Linked DNA regions of Homo sapiens: region 1 is linked to region 2. The links come from fine-mapping of genetic effects on gene expression. A gene starts in region 2. The other region holds a variant in brackets. All regions are shown on one strand. Distances are between the middles of the regions. Region 1 has its middle 7.8 kb from the start of SSTR1. Region 2 holds the start of SEC23A (SEC23 homolog A, COPII component).

Evidence for each region.
Region 1: its variant is fine-mapped to the expression of SEC23A in monocytes after LPS (Quach 2016, PIP 0.95).

What each region holds. Positions count from the first base shown.
Region 1 is chr14:38,194,373-38,205,759 of GRCh38, forward strand. No RefSeq gene overlaps it. Among named protein-coding and RNA genes, the nearest start is that of SSTR1, 7.8 kb to the right of the region's middle. RefSeq lists enhancers at 1,292-2,280, 4,455-4,955, 4,956-5,456 and a silencer at 8,932-9,226. The variant C/G (reference allele first, on the strand shown) is at 5,119.
Region 2 is chr14:39,098,264-39,109,650 of GRCh38, forward strand. SEC23A (SEC23 homolog A, COPII component) reads right to left here and starts at 4,972. Exons shown (of 20, transcript NM_006364.4): 1 at 4,769-4,972. SEC23A-AS1 (SEC23A antisense RNA 1) reads left to right here and starts at 4,877. Exons shown (of 2, transcript NR_146545.1): 1 at 4,877-5,108; 2 at 5,282-5,549. It also overlaps the pseudogene PPIAP4. RefSeq lists silencers at 4,578-4,657, 4,678-4,797, 4,958-5,187.

The DNA.
Region 1 (11,387 bases), 900 kb before region 2:
CACCCTGTAGCCTTTCTGTCCAAACAACTTGACCTTACTGTTTTAGCCTAGCCCTCATGTCTGCGTGCAGCAGCTGCCGCTGCTTTAATACTTTTAGAGGCCCTCAAAATCACAAAGTATGCTCAACTCACTCTCTACAGTTCTCATAACTTCCAAAATCTATCTTCTTCCTCATACCTGACGCATATACTTTCTGCTTCCCGGCTCCTTCAGCTATACTCACTCTTTATTGAGTCTCCCACAATTACCGTTGTTCCTGGCCTGGACTTCAATCCGGCCTCCCACATTATTCCTGATACCACACCTGACCCCCATGACTGTATCTCTCTGATCCACCTGACATTCACACCATTTCCCCAAATTTCCTTCTTTCCTGTTCCTCACCCTGATCACGCTGGATTTATTGATGGCCTAATCGCCACAAACCAGCAAAGGCAGGTTATGCTATAGTACAAGCCACTAGCCCGCCTCTTAGAACCTCTCATTTCCTTTCCATCGTGGAATTCTATCCTCAAGGAAATAACTTCTCAGTGTTCCATCTGCTATTCTACTCCTCAGGGATTATTCAGGCCCCCTCCCTTCCCTACACATCAAGCTTGAGGATTTGCCCCACCCAGGACTGGCAAATTAGCTTTACTCAACATGCCCTGAGTCAGATAACTAAAATACCTCTTAGTCTAGGTAGATACTTTCACTGGATAGGTAGAGGCCTTTCCTACAGGGTCTGAGAAGGCCACCGCAGTCATTTCTTCCCTTCTGTCAGACATAATTCCTCAGTTTAGCCTTCCCACCTCAATACAGTCTGATAACAGACGAGCCTTTATTAGTCAAATGAGCCAAGCAGTTTTTCAGGCTCTTGGTATTCAGTGAAACCTTTATATCCCTTACGGTCCTCCGTCTTCAAGAAAAGTAGAATGGACTAAAGGTCTTTTAAAAACACACCTCACCAAGCTCAGCCACCAACTTAAAAAGGACTGGACAATACTTTTACCACTTTCCCTTCTCAGAATCCAGGCCTGTCCTCGGAATGCTACAGGGTACAGCCCATTTAAGCTCCTGTATAGACACTCCTTTTTATTAGGCCCCAGTCTCATTCCAGACACCAGACCAACTTAGACTGTGCCCCCAAAAAACTTGTCATCCCTGCTATCTTCTGTCTAGTCATACTCCTATTCACCGTTCTCAACTACTCATACATGCCCTGCTCTTGTTTACACTGCCGGTTTACACTGTTTTTCCAAGCCATCACAGCTGATATCTCCTGGTGTTATCCCCAAACTGCCACTCTTAACTCTTGAAATAAATAAATAATCTTTGCTGGCAGGACTATGCCGAATCTCCTTAGGCACTCTCTAATCAGATATCCTGAGTCGTCCCAATTCTTAGACCTTTTATACCTGTTTTTCTCCTTCTGTTATTCCATTTAGTTTCCCAATTCATCCAAAACCGTATCCAGGCCATCACCAATCATTCTATATGACAAATGTTTCTTATAACATCCCCACAATATCACCCCTTACCACAATACCTCCCTTCACCTTAATCTCTCCCACTCTAGGTTCCCACGCCGCCCCTAATCCCGCTTGAAGCAGCCCTGAGAAACATCGCCCATTCTCTCTCCATACCACCCCCCCAAAAATTTTTGCCGCCCCAACACTTCAATGCTATTTTGTTTTATTTTTCTTATTAATATAAGAAGGCAGGAATGTCAGGCCTCTGAGCCCAAGCCAAGCCATCGCATCCCCTGTGACTTGCACGTATACGTCCAGATGGCCTGAAGTAATTGAAGAATCACAAAAGAAGTGAATATGCCCTGCCCCACCTTAACTGATGACATTCCACCACAAAAGAAGTGTAAATGGCTGGTCCTTGCCTTAAGTGATGACATTACCTTGTGAAAGTCCTTTTCCTGGCTCATCCTGGCTCAAAAAGCACCCCCACTGAGCACCTTGCGACCGCCACTCCTGCCCGCCAGAGAACAAACCCCCATTGACTATAATTTTCCTTTACCTACCCAAATCCTATAAAATGGCCCCACCCTTATCTCCCTTCGCTGACTCTCTTTTCGGACTCAGCCTGCCTGCACCCAGGTGATTAACAGCTTTATTGCTCACACAAAGCCTGTTTGGTGGTCTCTTCACACGGACGCGCATTAAAAAAACATCCTTACATAATATGTTAAAGGATGCTATACAATATGGGGAAAATGATATAAGTATATGACCCAAGAGGATGAAAAAATTCACTTATTGGCAGAAAGGACAACATCATTTGTATGTAGAAAATCACCTCTCAAAATAGTAAGTTGCTGAAAGGGGAGTGGTTGCGCTAGAATCAGCACCAATGACTCTTTTATCCTATTTCTCAGTTTTAGGGGAAAAGACTCTACAAAACTACAGGTGTTTTGCTGACAGTAGAAAAAAACCTTCCCTTGTTAACATGTTAGTCAAGCTTTGGAAAAGACATCACATGTCAAATCCTATCACAGGATGCTTTATAGAGATTATCTATTTTAAATTTTATTGGAATTTCGATGACATCAAGTTGTTATTGCTTGGACCACAGTGGTGGTGGTTATCTGAAGATTTCTGCAAAAGTGCCATGCCTCCTCAAATAAGGCAAGTCATCTAAAAAATATCCCTTATATATATTTTTCATTTCTTTCATCATGTTACAGAGAATTTCAGTGGTATTCTAAGACTCAGCCTCCCCAAGGAACCAAATCAAGCTTTTATGCATCAGTGGAAACCAGAAATTACTAACAGTATACACAGTGGCAATGGCCAGAGATTACTCTTTCATCTGGTTCAACCCCTAGAGACACAAGGTCTCATCCTGTTCACACCCAAATCCCCCTCCTTCCCCAAACACACAGCCTCCACATGCATTCTCTGACAAGCCTGAGTAATATTTCATCAGTTCTCCCTAGCCACTCAGTCCAGGTTTTAATATAGCTGGAATATCTTGGGTAGCTTTATCAAGATGTAAACCTTATAATCAAGGCTTAGTTCAAAATTTAAGTTTTTCCAGCTGTCAACTGACATACAACTGTATAAAATCTGAAACTTTCCCTATCAAAGTTCTCAATGTTAAAATCTCCCCCTAGTGGATTTTCAGAGCATGTGTTTTCACAAGTAAAACTGAATAGAATTTTCAAAAAAAAAAAAAAAATGCTAAAAATTTCATATGTGTGAAAAATAAGACCTATTAATCTCAAAGTTCAGAGGGGAAAAAATGCAATTTCATTTAAAAGCTTGCCATCAAAAAAATTCTAAAACTAAAGTAGAATAGTTTTGGTTTACTCTAGTCTTATGTGCAAGTGTGAATATTGAGTTTTACAAGTTTTTCTTGTGTGTCATTATCCTCTATTAAGTTAAGGCATTTTAATGGACTAAACATGGTAATTTCTTACTTAATTGTTTAGTGAAGAGAGGCATAATGTTTCAATTAGGAAAGAATGATCCCCCACATGAGTGAATCTGCCATCTGTGTATTCTCATCTGTTAAAACTGTTAGTCAAATCAACAAAAGTCCAAGTGCAAAGTCCCTAAACCAGTTGAAATGGGCACACACTTGCTCTAGGGAAGGGGAAATTTTATTTTAATTGATTTTGTTCCAGCAGCAATCCCTCTTCCTTTCCTGGGAATACATTTTGGCTGGGATTTTGTGGCATCAATACAAATCACTTCAAAGCAGCTATTGCTCATTTATCCTCTACCTAGCGGCTCTGCTGACCCACCACTTGGATATCCATTTTCCTGAGGTGGGGCAAAGATGAGGCATGACAAGACCACAGGAATGGTGTAGGAAAAAACTACAGAGAAATACTCATACAGAAGACAGCACAAAGCTGCCTGCAGTACTGATCGTCACATGTTTAGAACTGGGAAATGGTGGTCAGTTGTTAACAGAAAATGCATTTTCTTTGGTACCAAAATACCAATGGCTCATCAATCTTAATACTTTTATAATAACATTTTTTAAGGTTAAATTCTTTCAAAACATGTCACTCCAAATTTCTGATGAGGTCTAGTTACTTTTAAATAATTAGGCAACATGAATAGAGGAGAAGACTGAGGCAATTATTGGATTCATTGAGGAATGCATAAAACATAAAAATGACTTAAATTTGCTATTTATGTAATTTCGTGGTCTCAAAACCACACTTTAATTGAATCGAGTTTAGTAAGAGATAAGACCACAGCAGTGTGGCATGATGTTTAAGAACACAGGCCTTAGGGTAGATTGTTAGAGTCAAATTCGAGCTCTGACTGTGTGACTTTGAGCCAGTTATTTAACCTCTCTGTGCCTTGGTTTCTTCATCTGCAAAATGAGAGTAGTAAATAGAAGCTTCCTCATAGTGTAGTTGGAAGGGTTAAATATGCTGAAACCGTAAATGGAAAGTACTTAGTACACACAGATCCCACAGCTTTTTTTGTTCACTTTCAGACATTAACAGTCTTATTTTCAGACATTATTTTAAAAATCCTTTTTAAATTGAAACTTTCATTTCTCATTGAACTTAAATCTCTTTGTCCCTATACCAGCTCCAGCATGACCTATGCTTGGATCCTGTAGTAGGGAAGAGGGAAGCGGTTAATTCTTTATCATGTCTTTGCAGTATTTTTTTACTCTACCTCCCTCACCCCTTTCTCTGTCTTTGGTTCCTGCAGGGGAGAGGGAAAATCATTTGGGGACAGCCAACTTCTTCCTTGAGCGGTGCAGTTATAATCATGCATTGTGCCCTCTGTGAGTGCTTCTTTCTCCTTTGAAATTCTTCAGTGGGTTCTTCAGCATCGCCCACTCTGTTGCTGGAGACCACCCATTGTGCCCTTGGATGGCGTGCCCAATATCCTTGGCCAGCTGGCTGCATTCCCCACTCAGCTACTGATTGTTGATTGTTGTGCTTCACGAACTTCCCGCTGAGCGTCCTCTCATCCTGGGGTGGAGAGCAGGCCCATCACGGGGCTCCCACCTGCCTGCCTGCCATACTGTCCATGCCAGTGCCTGAGAAACACCGCCTCTGCTCCACTTTCAGTGGGAACCAGCGTTTTGCACCCCCCTCCATAGCCTTTTCTCTTCACTCTACCACCTGAAGCAATTCCCACTGGGCCGCTT[C/G]TTCACCTTTAAGTTTTCCAGGTAAGAATCAGACATCAGTCTCTGTGTCTTGTCAAATGTTCAGGGATACTACCAAGCTCTTTAAGTGGTCTTATAGAAGCCTCCACAGTTTACAGATGGGGTAAGCACCCACTTTCCATCTTTTGTGGGAAGAAAAATGCACAGCACTCTGAGAACTGTCTCTAAGGAATTAATCACTATCAACTTCCTTTCTACTCTCATATATGGAGGTAGGCAATGGGCTAAGGGGGTGGACTAGCACCTCTCTTTAGAAAGTGGATACATTTCCCAATTGCAGTCATCAGGTTGGGAGCCTGGGGCCTCACTGGAAATTGAGACAAAATAAAAGTTAAGTTCAACTTAGACTGTGCATATGTAACATTCAAACATTTGGGTTATTTGAGTCAGTGAGTTCAGTGATTAGTATGAATCCTTACCATGTGGTAGACTAGATTGACTTCAGTATGACGTAGATAGGTGTGATTAATAACTTAGAGTTATTTTAGCTGAGGGTGTGTCATGTACCAAAAACTGGTGAATGGAACATAGTTCACAGTGTTGGAATTATGGGACTCAACTGGATAGGCAGGAGGAAAAAGAAAGGGTAAGTATCATACACATAGAAACTGTCAGTATTTTTTAGACTGCAGAAGTGAATGTCAGACCTACTGTATTAAGCTCTTAAGCAAGGGACAAAACTGGATTTTTCAAGTCTGGGGCTAATTCAAAAACAGTGTTACATTGTAACCCATACCTCAGAAATTATTTTATAATAGCTAAATATTTACATAGTGCTTACTATATGCCAGACACTGTTTTAAACACTTTTAATGTATTTAATCCTTTTAACAATTTTACAAGATAGATGCACTGTTACTTCCTTTTACAAATGAGGAAAATGAAGCACAGAGGGATCAAACAACCAGCACAAGGTTAAAGTCATGGAAAATATGAGATGTAAGCCCTGATGTTTGGTATTAGACTACACTTTGCTTTCACAAACATTATCTTGTGATTTATGTCACAAATAAATCACATTATATAGCAATGATAAAGCAATTCCAAAAGATAGGCATATCAGACTCAAGCATACTCAATGAATCACTTAGCTATGGGATGATAGGGGCTGCCTAGAAAATAATAGACTGTTGTAGCTCCTGTTCCAGTTCCTTCTACCACCTTCTGACGGGTATGTTTTGTTTGCCATTTAACTTACATCACAACATGTTAATTTCAAGAATAAATTTATTAGTGTTTTTCTAAAAGTAAAAATAATTGAGGAGAAAATAAATCAGCAAATGTTATATTAAATAGAACAGACACTTACGGCCTGGAGTCTTTTCATTTTTAAGGTATAAAAAGCTTTTATTGCTTTTATCTTACTTAAAAAGCAATGCGTGCTTATGACTGAAGAATTAGAAAATCTCTGCAAAAGGGAGAAGAAAGCATTCACAACCCAACTACCTGATGATAACCACTGTTAATATCTTAGTAACTGTCCTTTCAAGCCTATGCATATATATGTTCATTTAATGTGTGTGTGTGTATTTACATCATTATTTATATAACATTTTTATTTTTGACTGGGGGAAGAGCAAAATTTTATTTTGGAATGAAAAAGGCCAACGGGGTAGTCAGAAAAGAATAAAGTGAGTGGTGTGGCATCCTCTCTCCATCTTCTTGGTGGCTTGGGTTATACATCTGTGCTTCAAGTTCTTCCAAAGGCCCAACTGTTTTGTTTGGTGTGCATGTTTGCTTACCTTGAAAGTTATCAATCAAGCTCAGAGTCCGTTAAATAAAATATAGCCTATCATCTATCTTCATTATGACCTGGAAAGACAGAGTCCAATTTAGACTCCTAGCCCTCTTCACAAGCTCTACCCTGGAACTTGCCCCCACCAGTAGCCTGTCCTACTTCAACTTCCATTCCTGGCTTTGTCCTGCCCAGTGAATAGGCTCATGTACATTAGGACAGATACCTGAACCCCTATGGCCAAGCTCATTACTCATCTGCCACATCCTCTCCTAGTCACCTCTGAGCCTCTTCTTGGCCATGTATTTGGCTCACACTTCCCTGGAAGTGGGTTTGGAGCCTCTGGGCAGGGAGTCATGGAGTCTAGAAGATTGTGATCTAGCGTATGGGCTAGATGTGGCTTGCGGGCTCAGACTGGGCACTTGTTGGCTGCAGGAACTCCTTCCCTTGCCGGGAAGGATGTGGCTAGAAGCGGGAAAGAACAGGATCTTCATGTATTCTCTATATGAGGTGCTGATCAAAATAAATAATTATTTACACCTAGAGATGTTCTCTAAATTATGACTGTAGAAAGTAGGTAAGTAAGTTAAAATTGGGAATGTGTAGCTTTAGCATGCCAACACCTACATCTGCAGAATCCCCATGGTTTATGTGCGCTGTTGCCTTTGACTGGAACAACCTTCATCAGACATGTGCCCTTTTACTTTCACCTTATTCATAACTGCTCAAACATCTTCTTTCCTTCCCTTTCCATCTAATCTATACCAAGTGCACCCACCCCTCCAGCACTCTGTATCCTCTCACCCCCACTTATCTTCTTAGAACTTATCACGAAATGAAATTACAGTACCTGTACTTGTTTACTGTCTTTCTGCCCTACTAGAATTCCACAGAAAATTAATCTAATTTGTCATTATATCTATTGTGCCTAGAACAGTGCCTGCCACCCAGTGGGCATTCCCTAAGTATTTGCTAAATTACTAAGTTACAATTAAAAACACACATTACTCATACATAGTGGAATTCTGATATTAATTTCCACTTCCTTTTAACTAAGAAATGGGGCAAATAACTGGAAATAAATCTTTTCTACTGCAGTCTGAATTTTACTTCCATAAAATAAAACACATACAAATAATTTTTTAAAATTAGGATATAATATCAGAAACCACTGCATTGGCTAATGGCATAAGCAGCGAAATCTTGGCTCAACCAAACAGTCAACAAAGAAGGAGTGTAGGCCAGGTGTCCCCACCTAGGCTATGCTATCTTCTTACTTCCTTCTTCTGGCAGGAAAGGAGATGTCAGGCTGTAGGAAAGTAGTAGCACGGGCTACTTCCTCAAGGACTAAGTAAAGTAGCATTCCATGCTGTGGGCAAAAGGAGACAGGGGCAGGGCCAGGTGCTGGTGAGGAGAGGCAGTCCACTCTCAAGAGGGGACAGTGAGGTGAGGATCCAGGACCTCTTTCCGGACCACTCCTGGTAGTTCTGAGTTCCAGTCTGACAGCTCACAGACACAGCCCCCCATTTTGCCTCCAGCAGGAGAAGACAAGGAGATGGAGAGACTGTCAACCTAGAACCAGTAATGACCAGTTCCAACTTAATTACAGAAAGGGAGAAAAGATCAATCATTTAAGTTGCTTCATCGTCTAAATAAAAGTGTTTTGGCTGTTGAAACATGAACCTAGACTCCTGCCTCAACATATTTAAAATGAGAACAAAGTGGCAGTATCATGGTGGTGGGCGTTTAGATGCTTACATTGTTTTCATCTACAAAACAGGCTTTCCTTTCACACCCTAGCTCTTTGCTGGGCTGGTGGAGCTGATTGACAGATATAGCCCGCTCCAAAGGAACAGCCCTTTCTCAAGGAATGAATGATTTGCTCTAAGTATTTAAATCCTCTGCTCAAAATCAAACATAAATTGAAGTATCAAAATAAACAAAAATATGGTTTGTGGTTTTGAAAGCATTTCTTTGTGATTTTTGCTAAAAAGAGAAATGCCAAAAAAATTTTTTTAAAGATTTTGAGACAATTATCTGGCGCAGTGGCTCACGCCTGTAATCCCAGCACTTTGGGAGGCTGAGGCAGGCAGATCATGAGGTCAGGAGATCAAGACCATCCTGGCCAACATGTTGAAACCCCATCTCTACTAAAAATATAAAAATTAGCTGGGCATGATGGGCGCCTGTAATCCCAGCTACTCAGGAGGCAGAGGCAAGATAATCACTTGAATCCAGGAGGTGGGGGTTGCAATGAGCCAAGATCATGCCACTGCACTCCAACCTGGGCAACAGAGTAAGATTCGTTCTCAAAAAAAAAAAAAAAAAAAGAAAAGAAAAAAGATTTCGAGACAATAGTTTTAAACTAATGCATCCATCTTAAAATCCTTAACTAACAGACTTTATTACAGAAAAATGTATTACTGATAAGGACTATTCAAAATAATACAGATAACATGAATGTGCTCCTGTTCTGCTTTTATGTTTCCATTATTTGTAATGAATACTTTCCTGTATGTGCTGAATTCTTGTTTTTAGAAATATTATTTTGTAGTAGAGAAAACATAGGGAAGAATAGGAGTTGTTACACCATATGGGTCTTTGCTAAAAGCACAAAAAAAGACTCTGTCATGCTGTTCACAGAAGAGGCAATAGGAAAATCAGTGGGCCAGGGTGAGTTTGCTGAGGTTGGTGATGAACTAAACCACAGGCTACCAAGGCTGCTGTGATTGGGTATTCCTGAGAAATGAAGTCCAGGATTGTTTCTTAGCCCTATAGCCACATTTGTGCTCTGGTAACTTTCTCGTTAGACTGACATCATGTTAACTGCTTAGTGGCAGATGGTCCTTAAGTGACACAACCTTTGCTGTAGGCCATATTGCTGAGTGGTGTTAGCCCCTTATACTCAATTTGGTCCCATCTGTCCAGACAGGTGTTTGTAAACCTGACACTGATTCTGCTGCTGCAGACAATGTTCCAGGAAGTGTACCCTTTAATCCCTGGCTCCAGCCAGCCCTTTATCATTGGTATGAATTAGAGATGCTCATTTAAGGATCAACACAGGCTCTGATTGGAAAAACCACATTAGTAATGATTTTGACATAAGCAGAAGTTGAGGTGCTGATAATTACTATTCCACCAAACGAACTGAGGCTCAAAACTGCTATTAAAAGGAAATGATCTTCCATGTATGATGACTTTCACACTGCATGACACTATTAAATAACCATCATTAGCTACTAATGCATGTACTACCCATTTTCCAGAGCCCTTTCTCTGCTGAGAAATTTAAGACCAAGAATGATCAATGAATGAGTCATCAGTATGACAATTGTTGATATAGGACATGCAAATTGAAATTATTTAGAATAATTTAAGTGTATAAGGAATTAATACACATGATGATATTCCTCAGCTAGTAAAGCTCTACTTATAAGGAGCTCACAGTTTATTTCTTTGCATCTACATTTTATAATCTAGAAAAGAGGAAAGTACTATCCATGGGATGCCTTGACAAAATAAAACAAGGTGATTTGGGGCAATTTTGTAGGTACTGCACTAGATGCTGGGGATAGAAAAATAAATAAAATGCAAGCCCCTGGTCTCCACAAGCTTACAAATTTATAAGAGGGTACAGACAAGTACACAAAAAGCCACAGTACAGTGTGATAAATATAATAATCAAAGTGTGCACCTGGTACATGATAGCACAGGAGAGTATAGCTTGTAGGAGAAAGTTACAGTGAGGGAAGAAAATCAGTCTGCTCAAGAATCTGCAACTTCCTAAATTGGAACATTTCATTTTCCCCTTTCTGGAAAACATCTCCTTCTTTTCTATCTATAAATGTTCATATCACAGAGGCATAGGAAAGATGGTAACCAAAGAGGGCTGGAGGACAGGTAACTTGTAGGGAGAAAACAAGCTCTTCCTAATCTTTTCAAGGTTTTAGACATGTGAACCTAAAAAGTTTTTAACAAGACAAGAAGATTGTTGAGTCCTGACTATTCACTGGCTGCGTTTTTTGCAAATTAAAGTGATCTCATGCCCATATCAGTTTTCCTTTTTCTTTGGAAATATTTACATTAAATTGAGATCTGAGGGGAAGATAGCGCTCTAACTGGGATCCTGCTTTTAATATAATTTGAAAATAGCTGCAACCCCAATCCACCTTCCTGGTGGCCCAGAAATGCCACCCTTTTTGTTTGTTTGTTTGTTTTTGTTGTTCATAGATTAGTTCACAAATACAATAATTAGAAATACATGACTGGGCTGAGCACGGTGGCTCACACGGGTAATACCAGCACTTTGTGAGGCTGAGACAGGAAAATTGCTTGAGCTAGGAATTCCACACCAGTCTGTGCAAGATAGGAAGACCCCATCTCTACAAAAACCTTAAAAATTAGCCAGGCATCGTGGGGCACACCTGTAGTCCCCAGCTACTCCAGAGGCTAAGGTGGGAGGATCACTTGAGCCTGAGACATCAAGGCTACAGTGAGCTGTGATTGTGCCACTACA
Region 2 (11,387 bases):
ACAACCAGGACGTGGGGGTGAGGGGGAGATTAGAAATCCAGTTTTTAGCAACAGCTTCCATGTTACTGATGTGAATATAAATTCTAAGACTATGCAAACCTCTTCCACATTTATTATACAGAACATAAGGCAAATAAAATTGTGTTTACTACTTAATTGCTCCTATAATTTAAGAAGCATGTACACGCCTACTATGTACCCACAAAAATTAAAAATAAAAAAAATTTTAAGGCCAGGCACAGTGGCTCACGCCTGTAATCCTAGCACTTTGGGAGGCTGAGGCCAGCGGATCGCTTGAGGTAGGAGTTCAAGACCAGCCTGGCCAACATGGTGAAACCCCATCTCTACCAAAAATACAAAAATTAGCTGAGCTGGTGGTGAGTGCCTGTAATCCCAGCTACTCAGGAGGCTAAGGCAGGAGAATCACTTGAACCCGGGAGGTGGAGGTTGCAGTGAGCCGAGATCATGCCACTGCACTCTAGCCTGGGCGACAGAGTGAGACTCCTTCTCAAAAAAAAAAAAAATTTAATAAAATAAAATGAAATCAGAACAGGGATGACTACATTTGACAAAAAATAAGTCATAAGAAATCCAGTGTTATTAAGAAAAAATAAAAATTCTAATGTGCCATAACAAAAAAAAAAAATAAAATGCATCTAAAACACATCTGCAAAAGGCATTAAAATAGCTGAAACACAAAACAAAAAATGTTTTCAATGACTGTTTTCTCAATTCTCCCAAGGATAGTACATAACTAGTACTTAGGTATTACACAGATATTTTCTCAAAAATGTATGAAGTAAACCTATCACTTCATAGAAAACAACTTATAGTATTTTTTGCCAATGATAAAAATTTGAGCTTTCAAGCAAACATTAAATTGTTTTTGGGTTTTTTTTTTTTTTTTTTTTTTTGACACGGAGTCTCACTCTGTCACCAGGCTGGAGTGCAGTGGGGCAATCTCAGCTCACTGCAACCTCTGCCTCCCGGGTTCAAGCGATTCCCCTGCCTCAGCCTCCCAAGTAGCTGGGACTACATGCGCGTGCCACCATACCCAGCTAATTTTTTGTATTTTTAGTAGAGACAGGGTTTCACCATGTTGGCCAGGATGATCTCAATTGTCTGACCTCGTGATCCGCCGGCCTCGGCCTCCCAAAGTGCTGGGATTACATGCTTGAGGCACCGCTCCCCGCCATTAAATTGTTTTAAAACTTGTGCCTGCTACCATAAGCTTGACAAGTTCCTAATATGTAAAGATTTTTCTGATGAGATCAGTGTTGGTATTAATGTAATTTGTTTGATAGTATATAACAAAATGTATTAACATTTAGAAGATATACATTACTCAGTGAAGCAATATCTTCCAAACCGTCAATTTGTGATATGAAAATATCACACATGGGTAGATGATCCATTCAAAGTGTAGAATAGGCCAATGAGTTTTAAGGTAACAAAGTACAAAAAGGTCACTCCTAAGCTTTCAGATTCCACACTGCAATTAACCTTTTAATTTATTAATTAATCCTTCATACAATTCAACCAAAACAATATATCACAATAAACTGCAGAAACAGATATGAAAACCCACCTGTCTTCTATTTAGCCTTTTTTTTTTCTCTTTGGATACTCAATAATGTTTAAGTTAGGGGTTCTGAAAACCACTGCCTTAGGACCATTAGGAAACCTCACTAAGAAAGGTTCCAGGAGTCTTAGCAGGAAGACATTCACACACAGACAATAGCCAGGTTTAACTTTCTACAACTGGTTAAAAGGCTGGATTGTATCTCTACATTCTTACTTCTTATTAAGACATACTAAATATCACCTGAGTGATATCTGGGCACAACTCTCTTCTCTTCTTCACATTTTTTCCTCTCAATCTCCCTGCTCTAAGATCAATTTGCTTGCTAAATCACATCTATTATACTTCTTACATTCCCACATTCCAGCAGTAGTTTGAAGAAAATCCCACCTGTTTCTCAATTGGTCCAATTACATGGCTATGCACAACACTTCCCTGACTTCCCTCACCTTTCCATAGTAGGAGTCATGCAATCTTAAAATCACGAATTCAATTACAAAATTTGCCAGGCTTAGTCCCATGTCCGACAATGGCATATCTGAAATAAAGTCCTTTTACAAGCCAACTTAACTTTTTTTTTTTTTTTGAGACGGAGTTTCGCTCGTTGCCCAGGCTGGAGTGCAATGGCGTGATCTCGGCTCACCGCAAACTCCTCCTCCCGGATTCAAGCAATTCTCCCGCCTCAGCCTCCTGAGTAGCTGGGATTACGGGCATAAGCCACCACACCTGGCTAATTTTTGTATTTTTAGTAGAGATGGGGTTTCTCCATGTTGGTCAGGCTGGTCTCGAACTCCCAACCTCAGGTGATCCACCCACCTCAGCCTCCCAAAGTGCTGGGATTACAGGTGTGAGCCACCATGCCCAGCCACAAACTAGCTTTTCATAACATGATATTATTTGATAAGCACTCTCTCCCCTAATACTAACATGTTTGCATAAAAGTATTAAACCAAAGAAATATTATTCCACACACTATATTAGAATGCAGACTTAGCATATTAGTCTCTTTTTTTTTTGAGATGGAGTCTCACTCTATCACCCAGGTTGGAGTGCAGTGGTGCAATCTCGGCTCACTGCAACCTCCACCTCCCGGGTTCAGGCGATTCTCCCGCCTCAGCCTCCCCAGTAGCTGGGATTACAGGCGTGAGCTACTACACCCAGCTAATTTTTGTATTTTTAGTAGAGATGGGGTTTCACCACGTTGGCCAGGCTGGTCTCGAACTCCTGACCTCAGGTGATTGGCCTGCCTCGGCCTCCCAAAGTGCTGGGATTACAGGCGTAAACTGCCGCACCCAGCCACTAGTCTTTATTTTTTTTAAAAAGTGATACAAAACACAAAAGACTATTACAAAGAAATGTCCAATTTCAGTACAATATACTTTGGTTAAATAATTTATCATAATAGAGCTAAAAGCTAAGAAGCAAACCACTATGTCACTTTAACCTAGTATATCAAATATGTGCCCAAGTCTTTTAAAAGTAAGACTTCCCTGGCCGGGCGCGGTGGCTCACACCTGTAATCCCAGCACTTTTGGAGGCCGAGGAGGGTGGATCATGAGGTCAGGAGATCGAGACCAGCCTGGCCAATATGGTTAAACCCCGTCTCTACTGAAAATACAAAAATTAGCCAGGCATGGTGGCGGTCGCCTGTAGTCCCAGCTACTCAGGCGGCTGAGACAGGAGAATAGCTTAGCTTGTACCTGGGAGGCGGAGGTTGCAGTGAGCCGAAATCGTTCCACTGCACTCCAGCCTGGGTGACAGAGCGAGACTCCGTCTCAAAAAAAAAAAAAACAAAAAAGACTTTCCCTATGATAGTTTTTCAATATTCTAATTTTAAGCCCTTTTATTCATATCTAATTGAAAATGTACTTGCCAAGTAAATTTGAGTTCCTTCCAATTACATGTATTTGTTAGTTGCCAATTAAATTTGTCTCCTACTTTTCACTTCCAAAATCCTCAATGAATTGTCTTCTTATGATCTTGGACAATTAACCTCTCTGAATCCTGTTTTTCTCATCAGCAAAATAAGAGACTTGGACTAGAAAATCACAAGGTCCCATCTAACTCTAAAATTCTGTAAGTCAATTAAAAATAGCTGGACTCTGGCCGGGCGCAGTGGCTCATGCCTGTGATCCCAGCACTTTGGGAGGCCGAGGCGGGCGGATCACCTGAGGTCAGGAGTTCGAGACCAGCCTGGCCAACATGGTGAAACCCCGTCTCTACTAAAGATACAAAAATTAGCCGGGCATAGTAGCTCGCCCCTGTAATCCCAGCTACTCGGGAGGCTGAAGCAGGAGAATCGCTTGAACCAGGGAGGCGGAGGTTGCAGTGAGCCGAGATTGCGCCACTGCACTCCAGCCTGGGCGACAAAGCAAGACTCCGTCTCAGAAAAAAAAAAAATAGCTGGACTTCTGAAATGATGTTCATTCACTACCAGAGGAGAAAGAGAAGGAAAACTCAACATGCATTTATATTTAAATCTAAAACCTTTTTAAACCAAGTTAATTTGGCTAGTTATCCATGGCTTTGGACGGTAGAGGTTGAGGGAGTTCAAGTGAAAACGAGAATTCCACATCCCCACTTCAGTGATTGATGTAGATTTACTATGACCTTCCTCAGGCAGTACCTTTACCACCAAATCGGGAAACACTACCTACCGTAGAAAGAAAGCCCAGTGAGATAGGGCTGGTCCTGCTGGAAAACTGAACTCTTTGTAATCAAAACCCAAGGCATTATCTTTACCAAGCTCTTTTCCCCTTTAACCCCTTTAACTTCCAAGGCTGAATTACGGTGACGTAGTCAATTGGGTTCAAAGTCTAGGACACTCCATATCTGGCAAGGAATGAAACAGTAAGTCCAAGGGCCCAGAGGCGATGATGGACTTGGGTGGAGGTGGGTGGCCCAGGAGGTGGGGGTGGGTGCTGGGCGAGATGCTCGAACCACCGTTTTCCACATCTTTCCACCTAATCCAGGGGAGCTGGAGGAGGCCGGGCCCCCGGCCCCGGCAGAGCGAAGTGGGTGAGAGGGTGGCAAGCTCAGCACTCAACGCTCCCCGCGCCGGACCGGGCCTCAGCCTCCAGCACACCTCGCTGGCCCCGGGGCACCGAGAGGGCAGAGCCGGGACCACCCCAGGATCCCAGCCCCCAGCCCGCCGCCGCCAGCCCGCCCCCGCTCCCCGCTGCGCACCTGCGGTCCCCCAGGAGCGGAGACGAGGCGGCCCTTTCCTCACTGTCCCCCTGCAGGACCCGTCGCAGCCTCCGCTTTGCAAAATCTGTCCTCTCCGCCCAGCAGGAGCAGTCCGTGGCACCGCAATCAGGGGTGGCGCCACCCCGCCCCGGGCCTCAGCGAAGACCTCCGCCCGGCCAACATGGCTGGCGCCGCCTCTGCCACGTCAAGAGGAGGGGACGGGGCGTGAGGGCAGGAAGGGGGCAGGAAGGGGCGGGCGCAGAGTTACCAGGGCAGGCCACCGGACCCCTGAGCTTGCTTAATAACCGGAGGATTTGAGAAAGGCGCGCGGCGGGCGAAGGTACCGAGAGGGGAGGAGGGAGGAGAGGTAGCGGGGACCGAGCCAGAGGGGCGGAAGAACCCGGAAGACCCAGGCAGCCGGACGGCCGAGGGGCGTGGGACCGGGCAGAGCGGGACCGGGAGAGAGCGCCTTTCCCAGCTCCCTAAAGCCACAGCGTATCCCACTCCCTGCAGGTCGCAGAAAGAGTGGAGAACTGGTGCCACTCGGACACCTTAGCTCACCGAGAGAAATGGAGACGGCCTCCAGGACATCTTAGGACCCTGGTTGATTCCGAGAATCACAAATCACATCTCTGAAAAAAGTGAAAAGTTCATTCTTTCACTTAGTGCAACAAATGTTTACTGAAACTTACTATGTGCCAGACACAATTGAGATGCTGGTAATATGATGCAGGCAAAGTAGGCCCAGATCCCTGGCCCGAAAGAATTCACGTACTATTTATGTATTTTAGTCAGCCTGTCTTTTCCTCCTACATTGCCTCTGCCACTTCAACTCTGTCTCCCCCCACCCCCAAAACACACACACAGTACAATATTTGGCTGATTCATCTTGATATGTTCAATGTTTTTCTTTCCAAGAAAAAAGTTGAACAAAATGAGAAAGCAACAGATTGGTAAGACATTAGAGCTTGGTGGTCTCAGACAACCCCTTCCTTCAGTGAGGGGAATGAAATTAAGTGCCCATGGAATTAATTGCATATATGACAACGCCTAAAAGCCTGCAAAGTTTAGCCATATCAACATTTTATGGAATGGAAAAAAAGATCAAGTCCCTGTCCTTGAAAGCTCATATTCATGAGAAATAAGACAGCAGCACCAGGCTGGGCGCGGTGGCTCACGCCTGTAATCCCAACACTTTGGGAGGCGGAGGCAGGCGGATCACAAGGTAAGGAGTTCGAGACCAGCCTGGCCAACATAGTGAAACACCGTCTCTACTAAAAATACAAAAATTAGCCGGGTGTGGTGGCACGCTCCTGTAGTCCCAGCTACTCGGGAGGATGAGGCAGAAGAATTGCTTGAACCCGGGAGGCGGAGGTTGCAGTGAGCCGAGACCACGCCATTGCACTCCAGCCTGGGTGACAGAGTGAGACTGTCTCAAAAAAAAAAGCACCAAACATATTTCCCTTTCTATAATGTGTGTACTAAAGTTGTTTTGGAAGGTGGAAGAGGATGTTTGCTTGTCAAATTGTAATACAATCCTGAAGAGGGCAATGGGAATCGAAAGCCAAAAATTAGTGTAGGCTTCCAAATAAAGTAGGTTCAAGGTGCTACCTTAATGAAGATTCTTAACAGCACACAGCAGAGGTGTTGTTATAAAGGTGGAATAAGTACACCCACCAAAAGCGACAAGATCTAAGAATGAGTAGGATAAAAAGATCTTAGTCCATTTAGGCTGCTAACACAAATGCCCTCAACTGGGTAGCTCATAAACAACAGAAATTTATTTCTGACTGTCCTGGAGGCTGAGAAGTCCAGGATCAAGATGCCAGCAGATTTGGTGTCCGGTGAGGACCTGCTTTCTGATTCATAGATGGTGCCTTCTTTGTTCTCACATGGCAGAAGGGGCTGGCTAGCTCTCTGGGGTCTCTTTTACAAGGGTACTAATCCCATTCATGAGAGGCCAGCCCTCATGACCTGTTCACCTCCCAAAGGCCCTACCTCCCTATACCATCACCTTAGCAGTTAAGATTTCAACCTATGAGTTTGGTAGGACACAAATATTCAGACCATAGCAACATTGATGAGAAGATCCACAGAAATCCTGGAATCCAGCGAGGAATAAATCAAAGCATAGTACCTTTGGTAGATTCATTCATTTCATGGTTCCCAGAAAGGCATCTTTACCATCCAGCTCAATGAAGTCTTTTCAAAAACTCATCATTCCTGGCCAGGCACAGTGGCTCACGCCGGTAATCCCAGCACTTTGGGAGGCCGAGGTGGGCAGATCACGAGGTCAGGAGATCAAGACCATCCTGGCTAACATGGTGAAACCCTGTCTCTACTAAAAATACAAAAAATTAGCCAGACATAGTTGCGGGCGCCTGTAGAGCCAGCTACTCGGGAGGCTGAGGCAGGAGAAATGCGTGAACCCAGGAGGTGGAGCCTGCAGTGAGCAGAGATCGCCCCACTGCACTCCAGCCTGGGCGACAGACCGAGATTCCATCTCAAAAAAAAAACAAAAAAAAATTCATCATTCCTTTGTTTTCAGTTGATCAAAGGTTTTAATTCCCTATTACAATGAAATAGATGTTAGGATGCATAACAAACTCAGTTGCATCTGTCTTTATGTGCTTTAAGATGAATGACTTTAAGTCCAGGCGCAGCGGTTCACACCTGTAATCCCAGCACTTTGGGAGGCTGAGGCAGGTGGATCACAAGGTTAGGAGTTCAAGACCAGCCTGGCCAAGATGTTGACACCCCATTTCTACTAAAAATACAAAAATTAGCCAGGCGCAGTGGCAGGCGCCTGTAATCCCAGCTACTCAGGAGGCTGAGGCAGGAGAATCACTTGAATCCAGGAGGCAAAGGTTGCAGTGAGCCGAGATCACGCCACTGCACTCCAGCCTGGGCAACCGAGCGAGACTCCGTTTCAAAAAAAAAAAAAATGATGAATGGCTTTAATCCTTGGATATACTATCAGGATCAGGATCTACTGGACCCAACTTTAGCCTTTCAGGGTTGTTTTTTTGTTTTTGGGCTCTACTCTTAAGGATTGATATTTCATGATTTTTTGTTCCTTCGTAGAAGTCTTCCAAACAACAAAGAGAAAATTTATTTTCTAAAAAAATAGATGTGGTGACTCACACCTGTAATCCTAGCAGTTTGGGAAGCTGAAGGGGGAGGATCCCTTGAGCCCAGGAGTTCAAGACCACCCTGGAAAATATGGTGAAACCCCATCTGTACCAAAAATATAGAAAAATTAGCAGAGCGTGGTAGTGTGTGACTTTAATCCCAGCTACTCAGGAGGCTGAGGTGGGAGAGTAACCTCAACCCAGGGAGGTCAAGGCAGCAGTGAGCCGTGATGGTGCCATTACATGACTGTGCCACTGCCTGGGCGATAGAGTGAGATTCTGTCTCAAAAATAAAATACATAAAATTAAAAAATAGAATAAAACTCATTCTATTTACAATTCCCATATAGATCCATTGGACCCTTATACATCTAGGACACATAGTGGGATTTACTAATTTTTTTTTTTGTATGTTGAAACGTTCTGCTACTTCATCATCCATAGAATTATTTCATCCTTACTGATCAATTATTCCAAGCTATGCTTTAAAAAAGATGAAAGTCAGGCTGGCGCAGTGGCTCACGCCTATAATTCCAGGGATGTCACCGTGTTGGCCAGGCTAGTCTTGAATTCCTGGCCTCAAGTGATCCGACCACCTCAGCCTCCCAAAGTGCTGGGATTACAAGCGTGAGCCACCGCACCTGGCCCTTTTTTTCTTTTTTTTTTTTTAGACGGAGTCTTGCTCTGTCCCCCAGGCTGGAGTGCAGTGGCACGATCTCGGCTCGCTGCAAGCTCCGCCTCCCGGGTTCACGCCATTCTCCTGCCTCAGCCTCCCGAGTAGCTGGGACTACAGGCGCCCGCCACCACGCTTGGCTAATTTTTTTGTATTTTTAGTACAGGCGGGGTTTCACCGAGTTAGCCAGGATGGTCTCCATCTCCTGACCTCGTGATCCGCCCTCCTCGGCCTCCCAAAGTGCTGGGATTGCAGGCGTGGGCTTTTTTTGCTTTTTTAAATAGGGATGGGGTCTTGCTATGCTGCCTAGGTTGGAATTGAACTCCTGGACTCAAGGGATCCTCCCACCTTGGCCTTTCAAAGTGTTGGGATTATAGGTATGAACTACCACACCTATAATTTTTTCCAGTATGCTGGTTACGAGGTTTCAACCTGAGGAAGAGTAGAAAGGGAATGGAATTTTTTTTAACTCCTGTGAAAGGAAGGTCAGAACATCTAAGAGATTGTAAAAAATATAAAATCTCATATAAGCTCCCTTCAAAAGAAAGTCTTTTAAAAGCAAATACTCCTAAGTTCACTATTTCCTCAAACTGGCATTTCTTAAAATGCCAGAGACTAAAAAGAGAGGGAAAGATTATGTGGTCGAATAAAGACATGTATAGCCAAGAACATTTCTTAAAGATATTTGACCTTGCAACTTTTTTCCCAGGGATTATCTTGAGTCAAGTATTCTAAACACCCTATGAAAGACTTTGCCTTCCACCATTAAATATTAGTTAATACGTAACAGCCAGTAATCTTCCTACTTCAGAACCCACAGGTATTTCTAAACTGAGGTTCCAGTACTACAGTCAGTGAAGTATAATGTCAATTTCTTGGAACTGTAGATGTTAACCACCAGATGGAGCTTTCACCTCTACTTTTCCTTTTTAGGTTTACTCTGTTTTCTAGTATTGATGAAGCACTTGTAGTTTTTTCTAACATGGATTCTCTTCCATTTGTTCAGATAGTGACAGGTTAAGGCACTGGCCAACTATTTTTGGAGTAGTCACTTGAAAAAGCAATATTCAGATTCTTATAATTTTGAATTTTCAGCACCAGTAGTGTGTTAAAGTTATATTCACGGAATAACATCTGTCTGATCCTCTATTCTGCACTCATAATGACTACAATTGTATTAAATATAATAAGGCTAATTAATAAGTCACATGGAAATTACAGAATAGTAAACTCAAGCCTTTGTGATCATTTAGTCTAATCCCCATACATGACAAATGAATGTGAGGACAAGAGAAGTGGCACACTTAACAACACCCTAGGCCAGGGTGCTGATGCTCATTTAAAACCTACAACACTGGCTTTGCAGACACCACTGCCGGAGCCCTGTACTATCAACCATGGTGAACCCCACCGTGTTCTTCAACATCGTGGTTGACGGCGAGCCCTTGGGCCGTGTCTCCTTCAAGCAGTTTGCAGAAAAGTTTCCAAAGACAGCAGAAAACTCATGCTCTGACCACTGGAGAGAAAGGATTGGATTATAAGTGTTCCCTTCTTTCACAGAATTATTCCAGGGTTTATGTGTCAGGGTGGTGACTTCACATGCCATAATGGCACTGGTGGCAAGTCCATCTACGGGGAGAAATTTAATAATGAGAACTTCATCCTAAAGCATACAGGTCCTGGCATCTTGTCCATGGCAAATGCTGGACCCATCACAAACAGTTCCCAGTTTTTCATCTGCACTGCCAAGACTGAGTGGTTGGATGGCAGGCCATGTGGTCTTTGGCAAGTTGAAAGAAGGCATGAATATTGTGGAGGCCATGGAGTGCTTTGGGTCCAGTGGCAAGACCAAGACCACCATTGCTGACTGTGGATAACTCTAATAAGTTTGACTTGTGTTTTTATCTTAACCACCAGACCATTCTGTCTGTAGCTCAATAGAGCACGCCTTCACCCCATTTTTTCGCAGTATCCTATAATCTTTGTGCTCTCACTGCAGTTTCCTTTGGGTTCCATGTTTTCCTTGTTTCCGTCCATGCCTAGCTGGATTGCAGAGTTAAGTTTATAATTATGAAATAAAAACTAAATAACAAATAAAACCTACAACACTGAGTTTTCATTTCATGCCTGTCTTTTCCTCTTTAAATGCTGACAAGACTAGATTTTCTAACTCTTGTTCAAATAGCAATTGTTTATTTTATATTTTATATATATTTTTGAGACAGGGTCTCACTGTGTCACCTAGCCTGGAGTACAGTGGCAGGATCACAGCTTATTGCAGCCTCGACCTCCTGGGCTCAGGTGATCTTTCCACCTAAGCCTCCTGGGCAGCTGGGACTTACAGGTGTGTGCCAGGATGCCCAGCTAATTTTTGTATTTTTTGTATAGATGGGGTTTAACCAGGCTGGTCTCAAATTCCTGGGCTCAAGTGATCCTCCTACCTCGATCTCCCAAAGTGCTGGGATTACAGCCATGACCCACCACGCTCGGCCCAAATAGCAATCTTCTCTATTCCACAGAGTGCCCCAACAGTGATATACTCCAATATCTCTTCATTCTGTCACTCTGACCAATCCCAGAATTTAAGAGTTAATTTTATAAAACTAAACAAATGAGGGGCCTGGCCCAGTGGCTTACATCTGTAATCCCAGCACTTTGGGAGGCCGAGGCAGGCGGATCATGAGGTCAGGAGATCGAGACCATCCTGGCTAACACAGTGAAACCCCGTCTCTACTAAAAATACAAAAATTAGCCGGGCATGGTGACATGCGCCTGTAATCCCAGCTACTCCGGAGGCTGAGGAAGGAGAACGGCG